Linked DNA regions of Homo sapiens: all the other regions are reported to be linked to region 3. The links are microRNA targets in miRTarBase. Many come from high-throughput screens and were not tested one by one. Region 3 holds a microRNA gene; each other region holds the end of a gene's coding sequence.

Region 1 (6,184 bases), not on the chromosome of region 3:
CCCAATACCTTTTCTTTTCTTTTTTTCTCCTCCCCTTTCTGTTACTCTTCCATAAACACCTGTTCCGTTAATTTAGAGAGAATATAAGAAGGATCAGAGTGAGGATGAAGGAAGGGTGAAGCTGAGCATTTCAGCAGCGTCATGGTCTCAGTCCTGATAAATATGCTACCTAGGGGCGTTCTCCTGCAGGAGCCTCAGTGAAGCCTGCTTCATTCATTCAGCCAGCAGTTAGCAAGCATCTTCCCTGAGTCAGTCCCCTGCCAGGCTCCTAGGAGACCCAGATGAATGAACCTGGTTAGGCAGAGGGAGCATGTGGGCAGGACAGGGGACTGAGCAGGCACCTGGAAGGTCTGGAGAGCTGTGTGCTGCCCTGTGCTACAGCAGGTGTAGAATCGTTTGGGGAAGGCGCAGGACATCTGGATGAATGGAAACAGCATTTCCAACAAAGTCACATGTAAATAGGTACAGAATAATAAAGTGCTAGTTAGGTGCACAGTGCTGAAGAGGCCCAGAGTAAGAGAATAATCGTGGTGAGTGTCTTAGAGGAAATTATTGAGCTACATTTTGTAAGAAGTAAAGGTCTAGATTAGCAGCAAGATAAGTGGGCGGGCACTGGAATTTGGCAGACTATTCTGTAAAAAGACATGGAGGTGGAAATAAGGAAAAAGAAGTAAGGAAAGCCTGAGTTGAGGTTGTTGGTCAAAGGAAAAAAGAGAAGGAACCATGAATGGGACCCCTGTGAAGCAGAGTTCTAACATGTAAATGTCCTGCGGCTACCACAGAATCAATCTTTATCTCCTCCTGTCCTGTAGGCGGTGGGAGCAAGGAAAAGGAGGCAAAACCCCCACAGGAAGACCTGAAAGGGGCGCTGGTGGCACTGACATCAGAGAGGTTTGGGGAAGCCTCTCTCCAGGGCCCTGGGCTCGGAAGGGTCTGTGAGCAGGAGCCTGGTGGCCCTGCAGGCAGTGCGCCTGGGCTTCCTCCTCCCCAGCACGGTGCCATCCCCCTGCCTGACGAAGTCAAAACCCACAGCTCCTTCTGGAAGCCTTTCCAGTGCCCTGAGTGTGGGAAAGGATTCAGTCGGAGCTCCAATCTCGTCAGGCACCAGCGAACCCACGAAGAGAAGTCTTATGGCTGTGTGGAGTGTGGGAAGGGCTTTACCCTGAGAGAATACCTGATGAAGCACCAGAGAACCCACCTGGGAAAGAGGCCCTACGTGTGCAGCGAGTGCTGGAAAACCTTCAGCCAGAGACACCACCTGGAGGTGCACCAGCGCAGCCACACTGGGGAGAAGCCCTACAAGTGCGGGGACTGCTGGAAGAGCTTCAGCCGCAGGCAGCACCTGCAGGTGCACCGGAGGACGCACACCGGGGAGAAGCCCTACACCTGCGAGTGTGGCAAGAGCTTCAGCAGGAATGCCAATCTGGCGGTGCACCGGCGTGCCCACACTGGCGAGAAGCCATATGGGTGCCAGGTGTGCGGGAAGCGGTTCAGCAAAGGGGAGCGGCTGGTCCGACACCAGAGAATCCATACAGGGGAGAAGCCCTACCACTGTCCTGCCTGCGGGCGAAGCTTCAACCAGAGGTCCATCCTCAACCGGCACCAGAAGACCCAGCACCGCCAGGAGCCGCTGGTGCAGTGAGCATAGCAGGTGGCAGGCAGCACCATCATTCATCTTTCTCACTGCAGGGCCTTGCGGGGTGCAAGGTGATGGCTGCAGGAAAGCACTGGTCCCATCGCCTTCCCACCCATTCGCCAACGCGGGAAAGGCAAGGCCTGGCTTACTTAGAGCTTCCAGAGAGCATAGCTGCTTCCATCTCTTACCCAAGTGGTGCTAAACAATTTTTCTTCCAATGTTTGAGGGAAGCAGTCTCCTGCGGTTCAGTTCAGGCTGAGATTTTCTCCTTCAGTGGACTGTCTGTGTCCCCCTGCCGAACAAAGCTGGGAGTAAAGGCAAAACCTTGACACGTGTTGGTAGCTGGGACCTCATCTTCCTGAGGGCTCTGTCTTGCCTGCAGGGTCATAGCTCAGACTCTTCCCCCACCCCCTCTCTTTTCCATTGAACAAACATTTATTGAACATCCTCTGAGCACCTGGCCGTGGGAATGCCGTGGTGAATGAGAGACTAGACGTGATGCCTCTGGGGGTTGTGCGTTGGGGATGCATGCGACAGCCCATGACCCGAGGCATTCTCAGGGTATCTGTGCTGTGTGCCCGTGAGAACATCTTCCCATGACCACTCCTGCCCTCCTGCCCCGTGCTGGATCTTCCCTCCCCAGCTGGGATCTGCTCCCAGGCAACTGTGTGAATTTTACATTATTTGGAGCCTCATCTGTGTCAGGCTATAACATTCTATCCTCATCTGTAAAACTTCCCCGTCCATTATTCCTTGCACTATAACAACTGTCAACACACCAACTATTAGGAAGTTAGTATTTTGCTATTGATCACTGAATAAACATCAGAGTATTTTAAAAAACAGTTCTCTAGAAAGAACTGTTATAATTAAAATGAGTCTGAAAGATGAACTCTAGTATTAATGCCCTATATTTGATGGCACTTTATAGTTCATAAAATTAATTTCACCCCATTCTCATTGGACCCATTTCCCAAGTATTTATTGAGGCCCTGTAACAAACATGTCAGGAACTCTTCTGGGTGCTTGAGACACATCCATGAATAAAATAGGGGGAGAAGCTGTTGACCTCGTAGAGCTTATGTCTCGTGGATGTACCTGATCTTCAGAACCCGTGGATATTCCTGCAAATCCTCTGGGCCTGTATTCATTGCTTTGTCAGCATCTTGCCCTGAAATGCATTTGTCACCTACCTCTTGTTACTAAATGGTCTCTGCCCTCCAGACCCTTGTCATCCAAGGCACTAGGGGTCCTGGACACCCACTGGGGATGATGAGCTGGTAGCGACCTGTTTTGCATGAGTGCCAAGTCAGGAAAAATAAAGATATTTGTAGGCATTAAAAAAAAATACATTTCTTTAAAAATGAGAAGATGCAATATTTGTAAACTGTTGAAGCTTCCTTATTGTGCCATCACTTAAGGGTTTCATTTCTGTTTAAAGTTCTGGAAGCTGCATAACTAGCGTGGACTGACTGCTGTGTCATTGTGCTGTGCCTTTGAACCCTGGCTGAGTGAGTGAGTTTGTCCTTTGTTGATAGTGTCCTATAATTGCAAAATGTGGTTTGTCTTCTGATGCCTCTTAATACCAGATTCTTTTACTGAGATTTTTTTTTTTCATTTTCCATTGTAAATAAGGTAAATGGTAATGACTAACACAAAGCTGTATTACTCAGCCCACTTTGAAACGTGGTTTTATCACCTGTTCTTGTTAGGCAGCATGGTGTCTAATTTTGGCTTAGCAAATGACGCTCCTTGGTCTTCCTGGCTCATTAGCTGTGCCCACGAGGCTGCACTGACTGGGTCGTAAATGTATCTGAGATGTCCACACGGGGCTGCTGCTGCTCCTCTGTAATACTGAGGTCCACATGCAAAATCAGCTTTTTTTCCCCCGTAATTATCAGAGCAGCTAGGCAGGGCTGACAGCCAGGCAGACTCAGTGGGAGGCTTCTGGCCTGAGTGTGGCCTTCCCCAGAGGGTGGTTTTCCAAAGGCAGGTGGGGACTGGGGAGGCCTCGGGGGGCTGCTTGTCATTACCTGAATCACAGATGCTCTTTTGTCATACACAGCCAGCATTCCTCTGGGTTTCAGCAAGTTGGCATATCTTAAGCTTCAGAAGGAGCTGGGCCTTGCTGACTTTCCTATCTGGCCTCTTCCCTATCTCCTGTGGGGCCAAGAGCTTAGGACAGTGTCTCAGAAAAGCCTCTAAGTAGGGGGTTTTTCCCATGGGATTGTGGTAGTCTGATTTTTCATATCTATTCAAATGTTAAGAAATATTTTGTTTTCTGTATTTTTCTATTCTTTAGAAATTTTTTTATAATAGATAATTTCAAACCTATATAAATAAATCCTTATGTATTTATCATTTGACTTTATTATAAACTCATAATCAATCTTGTTTCATCTCTGTCCACTCCTTCCTCCCCGTCTTCCTCCCCCACTGAAGTTTCGAAGTGTATCCCAAGTGTTGTTTATAACCATTTCAGTGTGTACCTGTAAAAGGTAAGGGCGGCTGGGTGTGGTGGCTTACACCTGTGATCCCACCACTTTGGGAGGCCAAGGTGGGATTGCTTGAGAGGAGTTCGAGACCAGCCTGAGCAACATAGTGAGACCTCATCTACAAACAAATATTAACTGGGCATGGGTGGTGCATGCCTGTGGTCCCAGCTATTCAGGAGGCTGAGGCTGGGCATCACTTGACCCCAAGAGGTTGAGGTTGCAGTGAGCCCTGATTGTGCCATTGCACTCCAGCCTGGGAGACAGAGCAAGACCCTGTCTCAAAACAAAACAGTTCCTTAATGTCAAAATATCCAGTGAATTTTAAGAACCCACCTAATTTTTCAATATAATATAATTTGTTGCTTTGTCTCTTAAGGCTTATAATCTGTAGTACTTATCCTTTTCTTCTTGAGATTTATTCATTTTAAAAAACTCGATCATTTATCCTGGAGAGTTTTTTACATTCTGCATTTTCTGTTGTTTTTTTTTTTTTTGAGCTGGAGTCTCGCTCTGTTGCCCAGGCTGGAGTGCAGTGGCACAGTCTCAGCTCACCGCAACCTCCCTGTCCCGGGTTCAAGCGATTCTCCTGCCTCAGCCTCCCAAGTAGCTGGGATTACAGGCATGTGCCACCATGCCCAGCTAATCATTCTGCATTTTCTGTTTGCATACCCATGGCGTGATTTAACATATTTCCCTGCCTTCTGTATTATCTAAAAATGTAGAAGTGTTTAGTGGTGTAATCAGATTCATATTTCACATTTTGGCAAGAACACATTATAGATTGTGACATGCCCTGTTTCTCTTCATATGATTTTAGAAGCCTAGATCTGCTTCTTTCGTTAGTTCTGTAAATGCTTCATCATTTAGTAGTTGGAATATTGTAAGAAATTTCCCTTCATTAACTTAGGTTACCCTTAGATATAGTTCATACAGGGAAGGCAAGAAAATGCTTGATCCTCCTCTTTATTTGCCTGTTTTCAGAATAATGAGCTAGTTACTTTTTGCTTCCTGTAAAGGCAGTCAAGTCTGTAGAAATCAATGCATTCATAGCTTTTTGCTTTTATTGGTTTTTTTGAGACAGAGTCTTGCTCTGTCACCCAGGCTGGAATGCAGTGGTGCAATTGTAGTTCACTGCAGCCTCAAACTGCCAGGCTAAGGTGCTACCCCTTCCTTGGCCTTGCAAAGTATTGAGATTACAGGTGTGGGCCACTGCACCTGGCCTGCACTCATGGATTTAAACATACTTGGTATTGATCAGTCTGCTGGAGTTATAATTTGATGCTCAAATTATTTCACCTTTGACCAGTGGAGGCCCCTGGACCTTGGCTCCTGAATCCTTTTGACATAACCCTAATTCTCATTGACAGCTTCTTTGCTTTCTGGCATGACAAGATGTTCCAGGCAAATGTTCCGTATTTCCTGCCCCTTTTGAGAGTGAAAGTGGGTGCTATTTATTATGCTGGGACAGTGGTGTAAACCGGGACTCTCCAGGTCAAACGGGTATTTGGTCAACTCATAGATGGGCCTCCTTTTGTATGACAAGGCATCTGTGGTTGCCTCACATTGTGATGATGCTGTACACCTTCAGTGTCTGGCTGCATGTGCCGTGCTGCTGGGTAATGAGGGAGGCTGTTGTCCTTTGCAAGAGAAACTCTGTTTTCTCCCCTGGGTGGTGGTAGAACCAGGTAACTGCCTAAGGTCTGTCCTGGGGAAATATTTCATCAAGAAAGTTTGGTCCATGTCATAGTGTGTGCTATGGGTGTTGTCTGCAGGCTGATTATGCTTAAAATACTTTCAGTACCTGTTTTATCCCAGCTGAGAGGCAAGGAGAACCTTTGTTTCTTAAAAAATAAGCTGGTTTCAGCCAGGTGCGGTGGCTCACGCCTGTAATCCCAGCTCTTTGGGAGGCCGAGGCGGGCGGATCACCTGAAGCCAGGAGTTCGAGACCAGCCTGGACAACATGGTGAGACCTTGTCTTTATTAAAAATGCAAAAATTTGGCCAGGCGCGGTGGCTCACGCCTGTAATCCCAGCACTTTGGGAGTCCGAGGCAG
Region 2 (6,101 bases), not on the chromosome of region 3:
CCAGGTTCAAGTGATTCTCCTGCCTCAGCCTCCCAAGAAGCTGGGATTATAGGCATGTGCCACCATGACCGGCTTTTTTTTTTTTTTTTTTTTTTTTGAGACAGAGTCTCGCTCTTGTTGCCCAGGCTGGAGTGTAGTGGCTCAATCTCGGTTCACTGCAACCTCCGCCTCCTGGGTTCAAGTGATTCTCCTGCCTCAGCCTCCTGAGTAGCTGGAATTACAGGTGCCTGCCAGCACACCAGGCTAATTTTTGTACTTTTAGTAGAGATAGGGTTTCACCATGTTGGCCAGGCTGGTCTCAAACTCCTGACCTCAGGTGATCTGCCTCCCTCGGTCTCTCAAAGTGCTGGGATTACAGGCATGAGCCAACTGCACCTGGCCAGTTTTGTATTTTTAGTAGAGATGGGGTTTCACCATGTTGGCCAGGCTGGTTTCAAACCCCTGACATCAGGTGATCCACATGCCTCGGCCTCCCAAAGTGCTGGGATTACAGACGTGAGCCACTGCACTCAGCCCAAGTTTTGCCAACTCTTATATCCATTGCCAACCTATAGTTTCGATTCAACCATGATTTGACAAATGAAGCTGCGCGCCAATGAGTGCGATTCTTTTTCCAATGAATGAATGGTCATTAAACCTGATGTGATCTACTGTTAAACTATTTCTCACCCTTTTACCAAACACATTCATTAAATTGAAACTTCTTTCAAATCTCCATCTCCACTGATCACAATAGGGCTGTCTTTTTAACTTTTTGTACAGATAGATGTAGGGATTGAAACACTGTTTGATCCTACATTATTTAATAATGGCTGGCTTTAACATCCTGCTTGCAAAATTCCTAAAACTATGGCTCTTGCTAGCTGTAGTGAGCCAGCCCCAGCCCACATGTGGGTGACACCTGGCTATGCCTGGCCCAGCGTCCAGCATGTAACTGACATTATTCCCCTCTGTCCGTGGCTCGCAGCAGCCTGGTAAGGTGGCATATCCTACTTCATAGGTGAGAAAACCGAGGCTCAAGGGTGATTAGGCTTCAGGTCTGCTGCCTCCAAAGCCCCTGTTCTTCCCACTTCGCTAGGCCACCCCATCCAGTCTTTCACACACTCATTAAACACTGGTGGCCACTTTCTTGGTGTCAGATACTGGGATACAAAGACAATTTACCTTCTTCCCTTCTGGGAGCTTTGGCTATCCCAGGAGGGAGGGTCAGTGAGCCTCAAAACCAGGCATGGGTGGGAGGATGCTGAGGCTGAAGGCTGGACTCCAGCCCTCAGTCCACCATTCATTATCACCGTTAGACCTGGACAAGAGGGCACTGCCCCGGGCCCTGTGTTTTAAAAGTCCCTGCTCCTGCCCTGGCCCTCCTCTTGGGATAAAGAGTTCCAGGGTTCTACGTGGAGGTGCCCACCTGGAGCTCACAATTCCTGCCCCTCTGGACCAAGCTCAGAATACCCAGAACTCTGGAACTCCTGCCCAGGTAACCCTAACCCCACTTGGCTGGGCTCTCAGGACCCTACCCTGGATCACAAGGGCCCAAGGTGCCTGTAATTTTATCTCCAGTGGTCAGCGAAGGACTCACTGAGAAGGCGATGTTTCAGCAAAGACCTGGAGGAATGGGATGCCTCGGGGGACTCTCAGGCCCATTGACGTCCACTGTTGGGACAGGTTTCAGGGTCACAACCTCAAGCAGCAGCTGGCTGTGCCTCCTGGGCCTCTCCTGCCAGGTGCAGGGGGGCTGCAGCCATGAGGCTCCCCTGGCTCAGGTCTGGGCCCCCAAGTTCTTTGTAACGCAACTCTTTGCTCTTGGCCTTCTGGAAATAGAACCCTGCACGGTGTGAAACTGAAGCCTGGTCGAGGGCTGGCAGAGTAGGGGACCCAGGGAATAAAGTGCTCACGCCCAAACCAGGCTTGATGCCAGGGCAAAGGGGGCTCAGTGGACCCTCCATTTTACAGATAGGGAGACTGAGGCGCAGAGAGTAGACGCATCCTGCCAGAGAGTGCAGACCTGGCCTCTGTTCTGTCTCAATTACAAAGCCCCTCCTCTTTCCCTGCTGCCAGCCATACCTTTAATGGTCTCTCTCTCCATCCCCAGTCCCCTCAGTCCCCAAATCCAACTGGTCAGGTTCTGGAGGGAAACCTAGTAAGTTCTGTCTTAGCGCCCTGGCTTGTAAGTCACACTGACAAGTATAAAGCCACATGTCTATTTTGGAGGCTTACCCCCAACCCCCACCCCGCCAACAGCAGCCTCCCCGCAGCTCTTGGCCCTGGGTGGGCCCAGCTCTCCCACAGCCACCTTCCTTCCCACCAAGAAAACATGAGCAGAGCAAATTGCCTAATGAGACCCATATTTTGCTGAGTTGCTAATCAAAGAACAAACCCAACCTACCATTAATTTGGTCTTGGGAAAGAAACTTGGCCTGCAGCAGAGAAAGGAAAACAGTCAGGGGAGGGCTCCACCTGAGGTTCACGCCCCCAGCCCTGGCCAGGCCGACACAGACCCTCACACTCACCATTCTGGGGCCTCGGCTGCTACCCGTGGGCTTGCTGCTCCCAGAACCGCGTTCAGTTCCCTTTCCTCCAGCCTCAAGTCTAAAGTCTGCCAAGCTGGGTGGAGGCCCGGGTAATAAATGCTCGGCTGCCATGGAGACTGGGCCCGACGCCACCAGGGTCAGATTCCAGCTTCCTGAGCACAGCTCATGACCCGCCACCTGGGCAGGTTGGATTTTTGAGGAAATGGGGCTGCAGAAGGCTCTCCCTGGGCTCAGAGTCTCTGCCTCCAGAAGCCGAAGCAAAGGGACAAATGCCAGTGTTTCTTCCCGGGAGCCCTGGACTCCAGGAAGGGGTCTTCTCTCTCTCTCCTGGGACTCGGCGGGGATGCCATCAGGCCCCTACTAGAGTTGGACACTTTACACCCCGGGTCGTATTGAAGGCTCCTCACACACCATCTTGTAGGAGGAAGGGAACCCTTCCAAGACGGCCTAACTCAGAGATGGGCACCGGGGCTCGCAGGCTTGGGGCTCGGTATTGCAGGGATACAAGCTTCGGTGCTCTCAGGCTGGGATTCAGTCCTCCCCGTCTGCTGACTTGCTGAGTGACTGGCGAATCATTCTACCTCAGTCTGTGCCTCAGTTTCCTCACCAGCTGAATTACAGGGCAGCTGGCAAAATCAAGTGGCCAGCGCACAGCCGGTTCCCATCCTGTGCCAGTTCAGTTCCCACCTTCTGAGGACTTTAAGGGTGGTGGAGGGGCCTGAGCCGGGTCTCCAGCCCCACCACAGGCTCCTCGGGGGCTTGGAGTGAGGCCTCTTAGTGCCGGTTACCCTGGCCAGGAAGGCTCCCCTTTTCTTCCTTCCCTTCCTCTCTCCACCCTCAGCCCCACCCCTTCCGCAGAAGCTGCTGACGCTCCCAAGTCTTCAGGAGTTCGTGCTGCTCCCCTCCCCCACATAGGAGGAAATGGGGGCAGGGTGTGAGGCCTCCCCAGCTTCTTCCCCTTGAGATCCCATTTCCCTGTTTGGGGCGTGAGGCTTTTGTCCACAGCTGAGTCTATGAGGCTCTACAAGTAGGTGTGGCTGCACAGGTGTGCCCTACACAAAGGCCCCCAGCCCAGGTGCGAGTGGTTGCTGGCCAGGGGCTGCACTGCCAATAGGAAGGGGGGCATTGTGCCACTTTGCACACAGGCGCATAGACGGGAGGCGCTGCCTGTGCCCCACTCTCCCCTCCCCGCTCCTTTCCTGACCGCCTCTGTGTGGAAAGTGTGCTTTTCTCCCAAATCACATCCCCAGAATCGCTTTACACCTGTTTCTAGACCCAGAGAATTTTAGCTGGGGACTCCGACTCCTCCCTGTCAGAGTTTGAGGCTCCCCCTCCCAAACCCCATGGCAGGGATAAGAGGAGGGAAGGCTGCCTCTGTGCAGAGGATGGAGAGAAGGACATCAAGGAAAGTCACTTGGGACTCTGGAAGCCTGAAGGCGGCCAGGCCAACATGCTCCCTCTGAATCCCCTTGCCTGTGGGAAGGGGCTCCAGAAGAGATGAGGTGCCTCCTTGGAGTTAGGCCAGTGTGTGCTGGGGTGCCCCGGCCAACTCCCTCCTTATGTGTGTAGGTGTCTCCGGGGGTGACGCACAGATGGAAAACACCAGCGTGGGGCAATGGCTGCGTGAGGGTTCACGATACAGCAACTCACCATGCTGTAGGGCGCACCGTGTGTGCTACACCTCAGCACGAAAGGGAGAAAAGACAAAAAACACCTCTAACACCACTTGGGGCTGTGACTGTATTTACTTCATTCTTGAATCCCGCGTCCCCGTGGCTGGGGGCTGACACATCCCTGGGCACCACTGTGACTTCCTGTGGGTCCCTTCCCTTCTGTCCCTGACTCTGTAGACCCCCCACAGGAAGGGTCCTAGGTAGGGGGAGGTTCCTCCTCCCTTGAAACCCTGGGCCACTCTGTCAAGGCAAAGCCTCTGGGCCCAGCACCTTGTAAAGGCTTTGATGAGAGGAGCTCTGGCTTTTGCTCAGGGCCTTTGGCACCCCACCCTCCAGCCCCCAGGAATGCAGGCGCTCAAAGCCTGTGGCTAGGCTGCCCGAAGCGCGTGCCGCAGTTCTTCTGGAGTGGGAGCAGGGGGACAGAGCTTTGGGTAGAGGAGGGTCACCTGCAAAGCTGGAATGCCAGGGGAGTGGGCGGTGCCTCCAGCTCCTGGGGGCCAGGGTGTCTCCATACCTCATGGGCCTGAGCCTGGGCAGGGGTCTGGAGTGCACATAGCCCCCAGGCAGGGAGAGGGCAGTGACAGGACAGAGCCACTCATCTGTCCCAAAGCTGCACCCAAGGGGTGTCAGCAACCCCAACCTACTGACCTACTTTGGGACCACAGGCCCATCTAGTGCAAATGAGGCCCAGAAAGGAGAAATGCTTTGCTCAACAGCCACAGTAGGCTGACGTAACCTATGTAATGTAGGGTCAGGGTGGGCCTGAGGGATGAGCCAGGTGGTGGGCAGGTGACACACCAGGTCCCCTCCTGGCCTCTGCCCCACCCAGCCCTCTCCTGCACGGCTACCAGAAGATGTCCGGGAAGAACAGACTAGCCCTGAGTAGGGAGTGTGGTCAGGTGCAGAGGAGGGCAGGGGCCCGGATCCTGGCCCAGAAACACTCTAAAACAGAATCCGATCCTGAGATGATCCAAATCAAACAGAAACTTGACGGAAATAGTAGAGTCTGAAAATGATGCACTCTGCGCACACATATACAAGACACACACACACACACACACGAATCCACGCACACGAGGCACACCCCACTCATGCTCTCGGTCTCTGGTTACACACCCACACCCCCCCTACTCCTGTATTCAGATGCCCTCCATGGCCCACCCTCCCACCCAGCAGAGCGCCAGAGCCTGGTGCCAGGGACTCAGTGCCGACTGCTGACGTGAAGGGTGTAGAAAGCCCAGGGCTCAGGGACGTAGATGACACCCGGGTACTTCTTCCTGAGAACAGGGTCATTCCACAGCCAGGCGACCCAGAGCGCCACAAGCAAGAGGGTCAGTGCGAAGGAGGAGAAGAGGAAGAGGCCGTTGCTGTCCAGGAAGAGGCGCTTGCGCTTCTGGTGCAGGACGAGGGCCAGCATGGCGAAGAAGGTGAAGATGAAGAGGATGAAGATCTGGCCCTCGGTGACCAGGTACCTGGAAAGGCCAGGGGTGAGTGAGGCAGCTGCCGTGGCAACCCCGTCCTGCCTGGCATCCCTTCCTGTGTGCGAGAGCCAGGCTGCCCTCCAGGCAGGCAGAAGAGTCCTCTGGTGCCAGGGCTCAGAGAACTATGCCGCTCTAAGCCACAGCCCATGGGCAGCATATTGATTTAGCTGGTATAGTTACTGTTTTTTAAATGTTGAGTTTGTTGCCAATATTTAAATAACAGAATACCTACAAATGTATATTTCTGGCTTCTCTGGTCACATTAAGTTTATACTTCCACACAACAAAAACTGACTAGAGGAGAAAGCAACAAACAATTGCCATTACGACGGCAGCCACCCCCGCGGCAGGATGCCGGGGTAAGAACCAGCAGGAAGCGCTCCCCTAACGTCTTTCCCGCTCACTGTAGCTGCCAC
Region 3 (6,184 bases):
TGCATATATAGGAAAAAACGTGGTGTATATAGGGTTAGGTACTATCCTTGGTTTCAGGCATCCCCTGGGGGTCATGGGATGTACCCCTAATGGATAAGGGAGGGGGGATACTGTAATAGCTAATGTTTATTGAGCATTCTGTTTGTGCCAGGTGCTATACTAAGCATTATACATCTCACTATATCCTATCTATGGAGTCCCTGTGTGTTATTGTCCCCATGATAAAGATGAGATAACTGATGTTCAGAGAGGTTAGATTGCCCAGCAGTTATCCAGCTGGTAAGCAATGGAGCCAGAATTTGAGCCCTGGCTTCTGACCTCAGGGTCCATGTCCTTAACCATCAAGCTCACATTGTTTCCAGCTGCTGGGGCCGCCTGCTCTTCACTGACTGAATTAGAAAACAAGCAGGACACATAAGTCCCATGTAGGGCATGGCATTGAAAATGCAGTTTGCGAAGCTGCTGACTAGTGAAGTGAAAGGGGACGGTAGTTAAAGTATTTTGCACTGGGAGACTTGAAGCCAGCATTCTCTCTACCACTGTCTGTGGGACCCTAGGCCAGCACCCCAATATCTGTGGGTCTTCAGTTTCCCCATAATAAAACTTGATTTTAAAATTCATCATCTGGCCGGGCATGGTGACTCATGCCTGCAGTCCCAGCACTTTGGGAGGCCAAGGTGGGTGGGTCACCTGAGGTCAGGAGTTCGAGACCAGCCTGGCCAACATGGTAAAACCCTGTCTCTACTAAAAATACAAAAATTAGCTGGGTGTGGTGTCACGCGCCTGTAACCCCAGCTAGTCCAGAGCTCAAGGCCAATAATAGCCAAGTGCTATGTCACGATGCCTGCGTCATCCGCCCCACATTGTCTCGTCACATAGGCATTTTATCATCTTACAGCATCACAAGATTCTCCTGGTGAGGCAGGAGAATCGCTTGAACCTGGGAGGTGGAGGTTGCAGTGAGCCAAGGTCACACCACTGCACTCCAGCCTGGATGAGACAGTGAGACTCCATCTCAAAAAATATATAAATAAATAAATAAATACATAAATTTCATTATCTCTTAGAAGTCAGTGGGCTGCCCAGCCAGGGGCAGAACTTAGTGCGACACTTGCCCAACTCCTCGTATTTGTCTTGTACTTCCCAGCATGGGAGATGTGTCCTAAATGAAGAAGCACAAGAACATGCTATTGAGAAGAGTCCCTCAATTGCGGCCATCCTTTGGTGTTTCTGAAAGTAACAAAACAAGGCATCAGATATAGCAGAAAGAAGCACTGGTGGTAGCTGAGAGAGTTTGATAGGCAGCTACAGAAAATCCCCATACCTTGGATGTTGATGGCACGCGGTGCTGAGTAGGAAATGCAGAGGTCATTGTTTTTCAGGCTGTAAAAACCTCAAGCACAGGAATCCCATATTATTGCCGTTTTATCCTGGCATCTTGGAAAGTACCGGGCACATGGTTGGCTCTCGGTTGCACTTTGCTGAGTGACTGACTGGGAAACACACCAGAGTGGATCAGCATCCAGTGAGGCAGATGGATGGACACAGTCCTAGGAAACGTAATCTGCGCAGCTTGTGAAAGTGTGATGAGAGTTGCAGGAGAATGGAGTTGATGGAACAGATTGTCAGAGCACTGTCTCCAAAGAAGAGGAGTGGCAGGGTGGACGGAGCGCCTGGCTGCACACACACCTGTTCCGCCTCCCTTTCTTTCTTCCTCCCATCCTCCCACCCTATAGGTAGTCATCAAAGCCTACGGGGTGCCAGGAGGTAGGCTTTGGGATACAGCGGAGAATAGGATAGCGATGGTCCCTGCCCTCATGAAACAGGGAATCCATGTCAGCAATATATGCTTTTCTGATTAATGCTATCAGAACACATGCTTCTTGTTAGCCGTGTGGCTGTGGGCAAGTCACCGAAACCCTTTGAGTTTGTCCATCTGTCTAATGGAAAGAAATACCCTCCTGGAAGAGTGTTTTTTAAAGGATTAGAAATAATATGTCCAAAGTAGTTATTTTTTCTTTGAGTTTGGGGGGAGGGGTGGTTCCTTCTCTCTCTCCCCCTGCCAACTGTTTTCTAGAAAATCAGCACTTACTGGATATTGTAGAGAATAATTTTGGGGTTTTATTATTTTGAAGACGGTTTCTTCTGTTAAACTTCTTCCTGCATCCTCTTGAACTGGCAGAAATAAAAATGCTAGACTTTTAAAGATATGACACTCTAGAATCCTGATTGCTAAAAATGAAAAGCATTCTAAAGTAAATAAAATAACAAATTCAAACAGTAAATCTGTAATGACCGAATGAGCACCATTTTAAACTCACACGTACCAGAGGTGATCGTGGTATGAGGAATGAGCATGGTACATTCTGAAGCTCCTGAAGTAATCAAGGGACTTCTGTTATGGCCTAAAGCAAACAAACAGCCACCATACAAACCTATATACATTTCTATTTCTTTTCCCTCAAATTTCTACTTGAAGCAAAAGGAAAGTCACTTCTTGCTTTCTCTGCCCCAGTAACTGTGGGTGGCAGCCAGTTTTTGGAGCAGTTCTGGAGCAATTACTCTGCAATCCCAAATTCCTAGTGTATGAACAAATCTGCTCAGACATTATCAGGGAAGAAATACTGGAACCTGGATTTTAGTCCTGGCTCTGCCACTTTCTCAATCCTTGACCTTGGGGAAATCACCTAAGCGTCAGTTTCCTCCTCTAGAAAATAGAGAATAATAATATCTGCCTCACAGATTATTTAGAGATTAAATGATGTAATAAAACGTATTTCCTCAATTCCAAGTCACCATCAATTTTAATTCACACCAAATTTTCAGGTGGAAAAAAGCCTTACATTAAGTCCTCATGTTGCTTGTAAGACATCCAAATTTCAGAAAATCAAAATGTTTTTAAAAAGTTATACTCAAAATGAGCAACTACTATAAATACGATTGCCTTGGCAAAGGAAGATTCTAAATAAACGTAAGACAGTCTTGTTATCGTGGTCATCCTCCCTGGGCGGAGGATCTGCAATCTGTGCCTGGGTTTCCCTGTCGCCACCACTCTGCTAAGCAGCCGGAAGCAGGGCTGCCCCTTCAGCATTTCTCTTGAGACCTACCGCACCCCCTCACAATCCCAGATCAGATGCCAAAGCCAGTGGGGACTGGACAACATGATGAGCCCAAACCAATCCACGCTGAGCTTGGCATCTGATTTGGGATTCTCCACCTTGCAGAGAATCGGAAAGTATCTCCACAATTTCTTTTGGACCGAGCTGTTCTTCCCTTTCCATGAGTTTCTTTTACACCTGACCTAGAGCCTCTCAACCATTTTTATGTCACTGCACAGCCAGAAAATGATAATATTTGTACAGCACTCCAGGGAAAAGGGAGGAACAGTTGGGCCAAGAGGCCAATGACTTCACCATCTGGAACCCATTCAGGGCATTCCAGCGTGGCCCACCTTCTCCAATTAGCCTCCTCAATGAAAAAGAAAGAGGGGGAGGAAGAGGAAGAGAAAAGAAGAAGAAAACCCTGGTAATGTTCACTGTTTTTTGCTTTAGAATTATAAGGGCACTTTAGTTTTTCGAAGCGTCTTTATGATAATGGTCTGGTATAGTGATCAAAATACCCTTGGGCTTGAAGTGCCATAAACAAACAAGTTGTGATACTTGCGTGTGTATCAGAATCCCTGAGGAAACTTGGTGTGTGTGTGTGAGCGCGTTTCCTAATAGCCTGAGGCCCGGGAATCTGGATTGTAAGAAGTGCTCCAGGTAGTTTTTTATCATGATTTTTAAGTCAGCTCTGGGAACTACTGTCTTCGAGGCCCTTGGAAGGTTTCTCCTGGCACTCTACCTTTCATGTTCTGCATTGCTCATTCTATTTTCCCCTGTAAAGGTAGCCTTTTTGATGCAGTAGTCCAAACCTCGTCTTGCGGTGCCCTTGTATATGTGCTCAGTCCTACCCCCTAGTGTACAAGAATCGCACTGCAAGGAGTAGATAATCAGCTGACCTGTGGGACCAGAAGCTCAGCCTCTCAGGCTTGCAATGTTCTCTGAGAACAGTGTGTCTCAGCGTTTGGTTTGGAGATTTCCTGTATCGGAATTATCTAGAAACTCATTAGAAAAACAGTCTGATCCATACTCTCAAATTTTGGACTAGTAATCTACATTTTAGGTAAGCATACTGGAAATTCTTATGTACATTCAGATTTGGAAACTACTACGTATATGGGATTTACTAATCCTATTGATCTGTAAAGGGTTAATTTGACTCACACATTGTTACCTGTCTTTGACAGGCCCCTTACTGCGAAATAACCATCCATGTACACAATGGACCCCTTGGAGTAACCAGCCTTGCTTCCAATATGACTGTTGGGGTAGTAACCAGGAGAAGGTGCTTAGGCCCTAAATTCTGTCACTGAAGCCAATGGTATGATTAAAGCTCAATGTGAAGACTTGAATACAACACATCCCACCCTCATTTTAGTTTCATCTGGCAATTGAGGTGTTTTTGCTTTGGCCATTATGGGTCTCCCAATCAGAGTGGAGCTTCTAGAATAAGTATTTTTAACATAGAGTCCTTGAGCCCCTGAAGTTGCATGCAAAATTGTATGTAAATAAGTGTATTTTTCTAGGACAGGGTTCAGAACTACTGCCAGATTCTCAAAGGCATTCTTGACCTGAAGGGGGAAAGATTAAGGATTAGAACAGAGGTACTTTTCAGGGTTAGAACAGTGAAGAATTATAAACAAAGGCTCATGTCCAGGTAAGGATTTCTGAGCCTCTGCAGACCAAGCCTGACCAATTGTCCAGCATTCCCCAAAATCCACCTGCTCTCCCTCCTCTTTTCTTTGTGCCTCATCCTTTCTTCCTTTATGCTTTTCTCTCTCTGTTTTTTCTCCCCAATCCTTTTGTCTCTCTTTTTCCCCTCTGCCCCCACTTTGCCATCTCCCCATCCCTCCTCACCTTCCATTTCTTCTCTTTCTCTCCCTTCCTGGCCTGAATAGGAAGCAAAGCATGTTCTTTGACTTGTTCTACCTGTTGAATATTTTCAATATTCCACTTATTTTATGTTGGTGGTTCTTGTTTGTAAAATTATGTGAGTTGCACATTTAATATTTCTCTGGCTAGATGAGAAACTAATGCTTTAGGCATCCTTGTTCCTTGATTGTTTGGATCCAGCCCTTGTTAGAAGGCTTTCTGTGGGCAGTGGTCCCCATCACCCCTGGCCAGCAGCAGGCATGCCTTAGGCCTCCCTCTTGTTCTGAGATTGATTCTGATGAAGAAAAACTGACTGACCAGAATCCCAGACCCCTGGCTCTGAGCCCCTACCCTGATCCCAAAACCCAGCTGTCTCTACTGGATTATTCTCATTTGCTGGCTTTGGCTTGGGGATCAGAGAAAGGAGCCATGGGCTGAAGAGGCCGTGGGACCTGGTCAAGTTTGCAGAAGGAAGTGCGAGCGAGCGCTGCCCAGCTTCGACCCCCGAGTCTGCTCCCACTCTGTGACTCTGTGAGCAGGAGGGATGGGCTGGCCCGACTCCCTGGCTGGGCGTTCCGGGTATGGATGCCTGCCACATGCAGTCACCAGCTGGGGAGGGCCCTTCCACACTTCTGAGCCTCGCCCGCCTCAGCCCTGAGCAGCTGGGAGTTCCGAGGAAGCGATGGGTGACCGCTGAGGGGTGGGCCGACACATCCTGCCTGTGCCCCCCCGCTGCTGGTTTGTGTTCCTCTCACTGCACGTGGCAGGTGTCCCCTGGCTGTGGGGAATTTGCAGATTACTCTCCATGTGACTGTAGAAGCGTCCCTGAAGGCACTTCTGGCTTCACCATTTTGGGGGTACCTCCTGGGGTAGGAGGCAGGATGGTGGGTCTGTATAAAGCACAAAGTGGGATATGTGCCCTCAAGTCACTCACATTTGGGTGGGGAGCAAGGCAGCCAGCTACAGACCCAGAGAACAAGGCAGGAAGTCCTGGGCTGACAGTGGGCATGCAGAGAGTGGGCTCTGTGGTGCGAGCAGCCTGTGAGTGCTGGCCGAGGGTTGGGGGTGGGAGTGAACCCAGAGGTGGAGCTGGCAGGAGAGTGCCGCCTCCTGAGGCTGGCAGGAGATGATGCCCCAAATTGCAAATTTGAAAGTTAAATAATATACAAAGGACCCACGTGGGCCCCCCACCCCACTCTTCTCCCCACTAC
Region 4 (4,000 bases), not on the chromosome of region 3:
TCAGTGCTTCAGGGACCTGGGTGCAGGCAACCGCCCTGAGATGACCCCTAGTACTGACCCCCGTGCAATACCCTCCCCCAACCCAGCTTCTGGAACAAGCACCACTTCAAGGCCATGGCCCTGGTGGAGCAGGTCCTGCAGATTGTGTATATAGCACCAGTGCCCCTGGCATGGCCTTGACTGTCCTGCGATGGACCACTCGCAAGCTGCAGGTAACCCAGCTGTCTCTAGATGCTCAGCTGCTTCTCTCAAATTCTGTGGGGGTGGGGAGACTGGGGAAGCTGCGAGGGCTATGCAGTCATTTGGTCACTTTGACCAAGAGGAGTTAAGTCCTTTTCTTCCTATGAAGGCTCTCCATGGCCCAGTTCTTTTGGGTGGGGTAAACCTGTTCTTACACAAATTACTTAAGCGGCCAGGTAACCAACACTAGTTATTGCGATGGCCATGTTAAGTATGGTCATCTCAGTTTTACATGAGGCAACTGGCTCAGAGGCAATTTCACTTGTGTAGGGTCCCACAGCTACACATGGTAGGGAACGAACGTGGGTTTGACTGAAACTAATGTTTTTCTTTTTGGGGGGACAAGGTCTTCCTCTTGTCACCCAGGCTGGAGTGCAGTGGCTTGATCATGGTTCACTGCAGCCTTGACCTCCAGGGCTCAGGCAATGCTCCGCTTCAGTCTCCCATGTAGCTGGGACCACAGGCATACACCACCATGTGACTAACTTCTGTATTTTTTGTAGAGACAGGGGTCTCACTACATTGCCTGGGCTGATCTTTTTTTTTTTTTTGAGACAGAGTCTAGCTCTGTCACCCAGGCTGAGTGTAGTGCTGTGATCTCGGCTCACTGCAAGCTCCGCCTCCCAGGTTCAAGCCATTCTCCTGCCTCAGCCTCCCGAGTAGCTGGGACTACAGGCGCCCGTCACCATGCCCAGCTAATTTTTTGTATTTTTAGTAGAGACGGGGTTTCACCGTGTTAGCCAGGATGGTCTCCATCTCCTGACCTCGTAATCCGCCTGCCTCGGCCTCCCAAAGGGCTGGGATTACAGGCATGAGCCACCGTGCCCGGCCTGAGCCTGGGCTGATCTTGAGTCTTTGGGCTCAAGCAATCCGCCCACCTCAGCATTCCAAATTGCTAGGATTACAGGTGCAAGCCACTGCATCTGGTCTGAAACCTACATTTTTAACCATTAGCTTTTCCTGGCTCCTTGGCTGCCCACCCTGGAGACAGCCCAACCCTGTGTGTAGTGGCAGGGTTTCCCTCTCCCTGCTGTCCCTAACCCCCTTCTCCAGCTTGGGTATTATATGGTTATGGCTTCCCTTTAGTGAGCACGTTACGTGCCTGGTCTGCAGGCAAAGTGCTTCACACAATTTCTAATTCAGACAAGCGGCCTGAAGTCTGAAGCTGAAAGGCTGGGTGACTGACCTGGGTTTACCCAGCTGCTGAGCAGCAGATGAGTGGCTCTGAAGTCAGCTGTCTAAAGCTGAGACAGCGTGGAGGCAGGGCTTTAAAGCCCAACGGTCATGGCTGTTTGCAAGCAGTAATGCAAGGCATACGTGAATAACCAGAGCCCAGTTAGCGGCGGGGCCATGGCTGGGAGGGGCATGATTAGTCACTGTGCAGCAGAAATGTGTTGAAGTCTAGCTGTCTCCCTTACAGGGCATGCATAGGGACGTGGTCATCCTGGATGGAGCAATTGGAGAAACTGGCAGCAGCAAAGGGACCCTGGACTCGGCTGTCACAGAGGCCGCCGACCAAGCCTGGCACCTGACCATCCCACTACCTCCTCCAGGTCTGGCTAGACCTGGCTCAGGTGCGGAGGGCACCACCTGCCACCCTTCATTCTCTCCCCCTGGCCAGTTTTGGCCTTAAATGGTTGTAGGCTGCTTTCCCCTCTCAGCCCGGTTTGCAGATCCTCCCCTACACTCGTGCAGTCTTCCCAGTCATCCTCACAAGGCGAGAGGGCCGGGCCTGAGCTCTCCTTCAGCACTTCCTGCTGAGGCTGGTGCTTGACCTGGCCTAGGCCTGGGTGAACATGGTGAATTCCTCTTCTGCCCGAAGCCTGCTTCCTGCTGTCCTTCCCAAGGGCGTGGTGAGAAGTGGGCGGGAGTAGGAAGTCTCCAAAGAACAGAGGCACTGAGAGGGTGTCAGAGGCACAATGCCGTTGTGAAGGTCACCCCACACCGTGGGACCCAGCCTGACCTCCCAACAGCAGGGCTGGAGGTGGCCCTCTTCCATGCATGGCAGAAAAAAGAGGGCCACTGTACACCCTGAAGCTGATTTACTCTCATTCAGAACTGCTTTCATGAAATACAAATAGAACAATGTGGGCTGGATGCGGTGGCTCACACCTATAATCCCAGCACTTTGGGAGGCCAAGGTGGGTAGATCGCTTGAGCTCAGGAGTTTGAGACCAGCCTGGGCAACATGGTGAAACCCCATCTCTCCTTAAAATTTTAAAACAGAAAAATCAAAAACAAACAAAAGCAAATAGAACAAGGTGGACAAAAATCTACCATTAGAGTCACCAAGGATAAAACCTCCCAGGATGCCGTGGACACTTTAGACGCTGGCTCTCAACTCTTGCAGTGATGTCACTCTCAGCCCAAGGCTGTCTTCCTGGCATCCATCAGATCCGCAGCCCTGGTTTGGAAGTGTGTGGAGGGCTAGGAAGGATACCTAATTTTCCTCAGCAAATCCCTCTGCCAAGGGGTACCCAGGACTGAAGAGAAACCCCAGCTCTGGTGTGGAGCTGTGCTGTCATGGCAGTGCCAAGGCAGCCAGTGGAAGTTGGCTGACAAGGCAAACTGAGGCAATCCACGCAGAATTCAATGGCCACCCAGGCTGGAGTGCAGTGGCATGATCATGGCTCACTGAGCCTCCAACTCTCAGGCTTAAGCAATTCTCCCACCTCAGCCTCCCAAGCAGTGGGGACCACAGGCAAGTGGCACCACGACTAATTTTTTTTTATTTTTTGTAGAGACGGGATCTTGCTGAATTGCCCAGGCTGGTTTCAAACTTCTGGGCTCACCAAAGGCCTCTTTTCTAAGAAAGAGCCCTCTCCCTCCTCTCCCTCTTGCTGTCTCCAGGAGAGACATCCTGCAAGGTTGTATTCTTTTTTTTTTTTTGGGACAGAGTTTTACTCTGTTGCCCAGGCTGGAGAGCAGTGGTCCAATCTCAACTCACGGCAACCTCCACCTCCCGGGTTCAAGTGATTCTCCTGCCTCAGCCTCCTGAGTAGCTGGGACTACAGGCACATGCCACTATGCCCAACTAGTTTTTTTTTCTATTTTTAGTAGAGACGGGGTTTCACCGTGTTAGCCAGGATGGTCTTAATCTCCCGACCTTATGATCTGCCCACCTCGGCTTCCCAAAGTGCTGGGATTCCAGGCGTGAGCCACCGCGCCCGGCCCACAGTTTTATTCTTTACAGGAGGTCAGTGCCCATCATGTTCCCTGTCTACAGACAAATAAAAAGCTGCTCTCTCCAGAGGGGCGGCAGCAGTCCTGATGGTCCAGTGAGACCCAGAAGCTTCCAGGAGACCTTCAGTCCCGAGTCCCTTTCAGTCATCATCTTCTGAGTCTGACTCTTCTGTGGACTCAGATGCGCTCTCTGGCAAGTCGTCTCCCATCTGCTGGAACCTTCCCGACTGTGAATCCCACATGTATTTGATGGTCACCTTGAATTCAGCCATCTCATACCCAAAAAGCTTCTGCAAGAGACAAAGGGAACAAAGAATCAGGAGGAATGAAGGTATTCAAAGTGCAGGGGGGCATTTTCAGCAGGCAGAGGAAAGCCAGCAACCCCGCCCGCAACAGCCCGCAAGGCGCCAGACTCACCAGGACGCGAGCCTGCTCTGGGGTCAGCACATCGCCCTCCTTGCACACCTCGTAGTCAGACAGCAGAGTCACCACACCTGCAGAAGAGGGTGGCTCTCAGTTACCTCTGGCCCAGAGGCCTGCAGAGCCCTCTCTGCCCTGGTCATGTTGGGAGGAATCC
Region 5 (5,987 bases), not on the chromosome of region 3:
TCTCCCCTCAAGTTCAGGTTCCAGCCCTCATCCAAGGCCCAGCTCAAGTTCCGCTTCAGTGCTGCTGCCTCCCCTGAGATGTTTGCCTTTTCCTAACTCTCACAATATTGTATTGGTGCCTTTTCTGTGGCACTCTTTGCTTCGGCTTTGGATTATAGTAATTTATCCCAGAACTCTTTCGTTAAAAGGGATCTGACATATGGACTAAGACCAAAATATCTGTGTTGGATCACTTGGGGACATTTTTAAAATTACTACAGATCCCTGAACCCCACACTTAAGATTCCGATGAGCAAGTCTGGGGTGGGTCCCTGGAATATGTACTTCTAAAAGCTTCCCCAGGCAATTGTGATACTCAGCCACGTTTGGGAACCATTAATCCAGTCCAACCTCCTCATTTTATTTATGGGGAAACTGAGGTCCAAAATTGTTAAATTATTTCCCCAAGATCACTTAATTAGTGGCAGAGGCATCCAATTATGTGGTTATGGTTGTCCTAGCTTTTTAATCAGATTTAAGCAGTTCAGAAGCAGTGCCTGTACTTTGCTCATCTTTGTGACCTGTGTAAGTACCACCTGTGCACCTCAGTCAAGACAGGCCATTCACAGTAAGTGCCACTATTAGTGACACAATAGGTGGCTACACTGCACGCTCCAAGGAGACAGATGCCAGGTCTGTTCCTACTAACGTTTATTTCCAGCACCTCACACAGTGCCTGACATGTAGTAAGGTGCTTAATTAATATTGATCAAATGAACAAAGCATCTGCTATACGCCAGGCACTATAGTAGAAGCTTTACATACATCATCTCATTTCGTGTATTCCAACTACAACCCTGTGAAGAAGGCTTTCATATTCTCATTTTAAAGACGAAGAAACAGGGCCGGGCACGGTCACACCTGTAATCCCAGCACTTTGGCAGGCCAAGGTGGGTGGATCACCTGAGGTCAGGAGTTCGAGACCAGCCTGGCCAACGTGGTGAAACCCCATCTCTCCTAAAAATAGAAAAATTAGCCAGGCGCGGTAGCATGCACCTGTAATTCCAGCTACTCAGGAGGCTGAGGCAGGAGAATTGCTTGAACCTGGTAGGTGCAGGTTGCAGTGAGCCGAGATTACGCCACTGCACTCCAGCCTAGGCGACAGAGTGAGACTCTGTCTCAAAAAAATATAAATAAATAAATAAATAAATAAATAAATAAAGATGAGGAAACAGGACCAGAGGCTAGGTCGTCTGCTCTATGTCACGCAGGAAACAATCAGCATAACTGAGCTCTAAAGCCCATTGCTCTTTCTACAGTGCTGCAGGATGGCCATGCTCCACCCTCCGTGCTCTTCAGAAAGCTGGGGGTCATTCCAAAACAATATATGGGGAGAGGTATTCAAAAGCCCCAAATGTTTAGAAGCCTCAGTTTTGTTCTCAGCTCTAACATAGCCTTGCTGCTCCATGAGGTAATGTAAAAGGTAGTTCTACTGCAACTTGTATTGTGTATGTTCTAGAACATTCAGTACTCCTACCACTTGCATGCTTATATGTGTATGACTCGATACTATCAAAAGCTTTACAAGTATTTCATCCTCTTTCCCTTGTGTGTGTGTGTGTGTGTGTGTGTGTGTGTGTGTGTGTGTGTGTGTGTGTGTTTAATGCTATTAAAATTCTCCTCCCTTTGTAGGGCAGCAGTGCCAGGACTAGGGCAAACAGAGTTCAAAGAGTGTCCCGGCATGAACTATTCTAATACCAGGTTTCAGATATGAGCTAATGGCTGAGAAACAGGAGTCAGGGATGTGAGTTGGCCCCACACACCTAGTCCCCTGCCCAGACCACTTGCGCAGTGAGTGGGTTCTTTTGTACCAGAGGAATCGCGTGCCAGGGACCCAGCCTCTAAAAATGACAGGGTTCTGACTCCACTGTCAGGCATGAGAGGGAGACCGAAGTCGCCACATCCCAGAGACTGAGTTTCAGCTCCGCCATCTGAAATGTTTCTGTTTTTTTCTTTCCAATTTGATGTTTTCCTTGGATGCTGGCCTTGAGTTTATACTCCATGTAGACAGTTTCCTCATTCCTCGTGGCCTCCTTTTCATTGCTGTTGCTTCCTCAATCGGTCCTTAGTGAAACGCCAATCTCAGTGGTGTGGGAACGAGTATGAGAGACCTCGCTCTAGGTGCTCGCACGGAACTTCCGGCCCCACAAGCTGACGCCCCACCGTGTCCTCCGTGGCTGCCTCCACCTGCCCCTGCAGCTTTCAAATATGTCTGTCATTGCTTTCAAATTCTCACTTATCTTCCCTTCTTTTTTTAAATTAAAAAAAAATGTTTCAGAGGCAGGGTCTTGCTGTGTTGCCAGGCTGGAGTGCAGTGGGACCATCGTGGCTCACTGCAGCCTTAAACTCTGGGGCTCAAGTGATCCCCCTCCTCAGCATCACAAGTAGCTGGGACCACAGGCGTGCACCATCATGCCTATTTCATTCGTTTAAATTGCCTTGAACAGAATTACATTAATAAGGGCTCTGATCTCATAAATAACCCAAGATTCCTTGGTGTTGAGGCTGGAATCACAGAGCCACCTCCTAGAAAGGCCCATCGAAGCCTTGGGGGAGCCTCAGAACTGCAGGCTTAGGGCGGCTGATGGTTCTTTTCCTCCTGTCTGTGCCAGGGTAGCAAACTGCATATCACAGCAGATTACTTGGAAGATAACTAAATGAGATATAGGGATGAACTCCTTGGGATGCTGGGATATCAGTGTTGGATTTCATAATATGCAACCACTTTTATGGTGAGGGATTTGGAAGCCAACTGCTGTCGGAATTACTGAAGGTGCCAACATGAGGCCAATATACGCAATATAGGCAAAACCTATTTATAGTAATGTCCCAAACACCATCCAAATTCTTTTGCAGTATAATACTAAACTGTTGCTGATTAAATCTTACTGAAGTCTGTAGACCATAAGCTGGGTTTGAATTTTTTTAAAAAGTAAATTTTCTCTGTAGCAATACATTTAATGGAATCTGATCTATATTACTTCTGCCAAGAAGGAATTCAGAATTACCAATTGGAGTTAATGTGGTACAAAGAACTAGAAACCTCTCATTCTCAGGAAATGGACAGGGCAGGGGGAGTCCTTAATGAAAACACTGTGTCAGTAATTTTTGTGGCTTAAGATCACCACGTGTAGTTCCATGGGTTCAGAATAGATTCTCAGAGATGGGGGTTATAGTAGAAAGAGCAAAGGATTAAGCATCAGGAACCAGATTTACCCCTAGTCCCGTAACCCTGGGTAATTTACCTGCCTTCTTTGTGTTCCCATTTCCTCACCTATAGGAATGGAGGGATTGCGCAGGGTGCAGTGGCTCGTGCCTGTAACCCCAGCACTGCTGGGGGACCAAGGTGGGAAGATTGCTTGAGGCCAGAAGTTCAAGGCTGCAGTGAGTTATGATAGTGCCCCTGCACTCCAGCCTGGGTGACAGGGCAACACCTTGTTTAAAAACATAAAAATAGGCCAGGCACGGTGGCTCATGCCTGTAATCCCAGCACTTTGGGAGGCCAAGGTGGGTGGATCACCTGAGGTCAGGAGTTGGAGACCAGCTTGGCCAACAGGGCGAAACCCTGTCTCTACTAAAAATACAAAAATTAGCCGGATGGGGTGGCGTGTGCCTATAATCCCAGCTACACAGGATGCTGAGGCACGAGAATCACTTGAACCCAGAAGGTGGAGGTTGCAGTGAGCGGGGATTGTGCCACTGCACTCCAGGCTGGGTGACAAGAGTCAAATTCCGTCTCAAAAATAAATAAATAAATAATACAAATAAAAACAAACAAAAAACAATAAAAATTGAGGAATTGGGCTAGATAAGTGGTTTTCGAGACAGAACTTTGAGACAGTTCTTACTTAGGGGCCAGTGGAGATCTCCTCTCCTACCCAATTTTCAACTACATAAATGTTATTTGTTTTGCTTCAACATATGATTTTAGTGGAAAAATAGAGTTCTCCTTCTTTAAAAACATTTTTTTTAAAAAACCACTGGACTAGCTAATTCCTACTCCTAAACCTTTGTAATTCAATATAAGGTCTACCCATCAAATTGTTTAGACTCCTGGATGATACTCATGTTTTTAGGAAGGGTTCCTACACCCAAAGCCCAGGTCAGCCAGTTTCTGCGTGTAGGCAAGTTACTGCGTTAGGACTCTTGTACTAGTGTACAATCTAGAAGTTGCATTGGGGCAGCAGGGAGAGAATTCTTATCAGTGAGTGTTTAGCCTCGTTGTACACAGCAGTTACCAGAACAATTAAGAGAGACAAAAGTTCTCCAACACCTTGATCATCTCTGGTAGACAGCTTTGGAAGACACACATACCGTCTACTTCTTCGGACTTCCTAAGCTGTGGAATAGGGATTCAGTGTCTGTGGTATGAAACGGGGTCTGAGAGTTTCATCCCATCAAACTGACAGGGTAATTTTGAGATGGGGCAACAGGAATTGTAATACTGGGGCAATATTTGCTTGTCATCAGTTTGACATCTTCTTGACATGTGCTCTTTTTGACCCCAGTGATTCTTCATTGATCCCCATGTAAGGTGTCCCATTCCCCCATCCACACTGACTCACCACCAGGAATTGTTGTGTGTTCTGAAGAGGCTCAACCAGTTTCATTTGCCTTCTGTTCAGCTTCCCTCCATCTCTTATCCCCAGTCCTCTGTAAATCCTTACTCCTTCATTAAGTATTCCCTGATTCATGGAAGTGACATGATCCGGTTTAGTTTACAAAACCAGGAAATTATTCCTCTGGACCAGAGAGAGAGAGAGAGAACAAGAAACAACAACAAAAAACCCAAATGGAATCTATAAAGGGAAGACAGATATATTCTACATTGTTCCCATTAAAATGGAAACCCCGTGGGGAGAGGAAATGCATCTGTGGAATGTAGAGTGGATTTCTTTCACATATGGGCACTCAGTAAACATTATTAATGAATGATAATGATTTGTCAGTGATTGAAATTGTTTCAGGGCAGGAACAGGGAATGAAATACGTAGACATTCCTCTATCTCATGGGGAAACTGCTAGGCAGGTCATCCAGATGTATTTTCTTTGGGGAGTTGTGAATTCCTTGTGTGTCCAGCTATCACTATGTAATGATATTTTACGTTCTCAGTAATACATATCATCATTATATATATCATCATCTTATATGTATATATATAATACCCCTGTACATAGATATATGTACACATGTATATATTTATATGTATAAAATTAAAGTGTGGAACTTGTAGTTTCCTGTCGAAGAAGCTTGCAAATTGCAATTCCATCCTAGCAAGTAAAAAGCTGAACAGACTGAAAAAGCAAGTCTCCTTGGATCCATAAAGGAAGCGAGGTCTCAGAGCAAACCACTGTCCCCAGAACTGGAGAAACCGGCAGGAGAATGCAGCTTCACAAGGTACCGGAGCAGAAGCCCTGGGCAGCAGCCTCTGCCCGAGCAGTGACAGGCAGGGAAACCTGAGCTGTCATCACCAGAGTGCCGGAGGCGCAGAGCGGGCAAGTCTGGAAGTTAAAGATCCACGGGAACCATGTCGTTGTCCCCTCTCCCTCACCTTCTGGAGCTTCCCCGAGTTCTCACAGTGAATAATGGAGAAAAATCCCCTCGTGCCTCCTGCAGTGGGAAGAAGAAAAAGGACCATTTTGAAAGAGACTGCCGCACTCTGCTCTTCCTAACGAGGTCGCCTCCCCTAACCCCACCGCGGCTTTATCAGCGCCTAACTGACCTGGGGGAAGGGAAACTCCCACGCCAGCCCACTCTAGCCATCTCCCGGCTCACTTAAGGTGGGGGCGGGAGGGAGGACGGAGACTCATTTGTGAATGTTCAGCTGAGGGGTGCAAGCTCACCAAAACTCTGAGGCCTGATTGTAGACTATAGAGTAGACCTTCCCACCGCACACTCACGGCCTCTTTACAGCAGCTGCCTTTACCCGGTCACAGCCACTATCAAG

What was found. The annotated mature microRNA hsa-miR-5092 reads AAUCCACGCUGAGCUUGGCAUC and lies in region 3 at 3,178-3,199, shown strand. An mRNA with a match to its seed (bases 2 to 7 or 8) in the 3' UTR can be bound and repressed. Matches are read on the target gene's strand: a 7mer-m8 pairs with bases 2 to 8, a 7mer-A1 pairs with bases 2 to 7 and ends in A, and an 8mer does both.
Region 1: miRTarBase lists ZSCAN25 as a target of hsa-miR-5092. Seed matches in the 3' UTR shown: 7mer-m8 at 2,724-2,730 and 8mer at 2,750-2,757.
Region 2: miRTarBase lists CLN6 as a target of hsa-miR-5092. Seed matches in the 3' UTR shown: 7mer-m8 at 5,268-5,274.
Region 4: miRTarBase lists MRTO4 as a target of hsa-miR-5092. Seed matches in the 3' UTR shown: 7mer-m8 at 2,817-2,823.
Region 5: the mRNA of FBXL14 is a reported target of hsa-miR-5092. Seed matches in the 3' UTR shown: 7mer-m8 at 5,555-5,561.

The regions. Positions count from the first base shown.
Region 1 is chr7:99,628,379-99,634,562 of GRCh38, forward strand. It overlaps ZSCAN25 (zinc finger and SCAN domain containing 25), which reads left to right. Exons shown (of 8, transcript NM_145115.3): 8 at 813-4,030. The coding sequence ends at 1,642. Among named protein-coding and RNA genes, the nearest start is that of ZSCAN25, 15 kb to the left of the region's middle. RefSeq lists an enhancer at 1,459-2,105.
Region 2 is chr15:68,202,735-68,208,835 of GRCh38, forward strand. It overlaps CLN6 (CLN6 transmembrane ER protein), which reads right to left. Exons shown (of 7, transcript NM_017882.3): 7 at 4,258-5,676. The coding sequence ends at 5,406. It overlaps CALML4 (calmodulin like 4), which reads right to left and starts at 2,598. Exons shown (of 5, transcript NM_033429.3): 1 at 2,511-2,598; 2 at 2,387-2,417. The coding sequence starts at 2,513. RefSeq lists an enhancer at 3,297-3,591.
Region 3 is chr3:125,148,490-125,154,673 of GRCh38, reverse strand. MIR5092 (microRNA 5092) reads left to right here and starts at 3,122; the gene lies at 3,122-3,209. All of the region lies in intron 5 of SLC12A8 (solute carrier family 12 member 8), which reads left to right. RefSeq lists enhancers at 30-531, 5,354-5,423, 5,444-5,633, 5,744-5,833.
Region 4 is chr1:19,258,394-19,262,393 of GRCh38, reverse strand. It overlaps MRTO4 (MRT4 homolog, ribosome maturation factor), which reads right to left. Exons shown (of 8, transcript NM_016183.4): 7 at 3,841-3,917; 8 at 2,266-3,713. The coding sequence ends at 3,564. Among named protein-coding and RNA genes, the nearest start is that of MRTO4, 8.6 kb to the right of the region's middle.
Region 5 is chr12:1,561,161-1,567,147 of GRCh38, forward strand. It overlaps FBXL14 (F-box and leucine rich repeat protein 14), which reads right to left. Exons shown (of 2, transcript NM_152441.3): 2 at 4,833-5,650. The coding sequence ends at 5,588. Among named protein-coding and RNA genes, the nearest start is that of FBXL14, 30 kb to the right of the region's middle.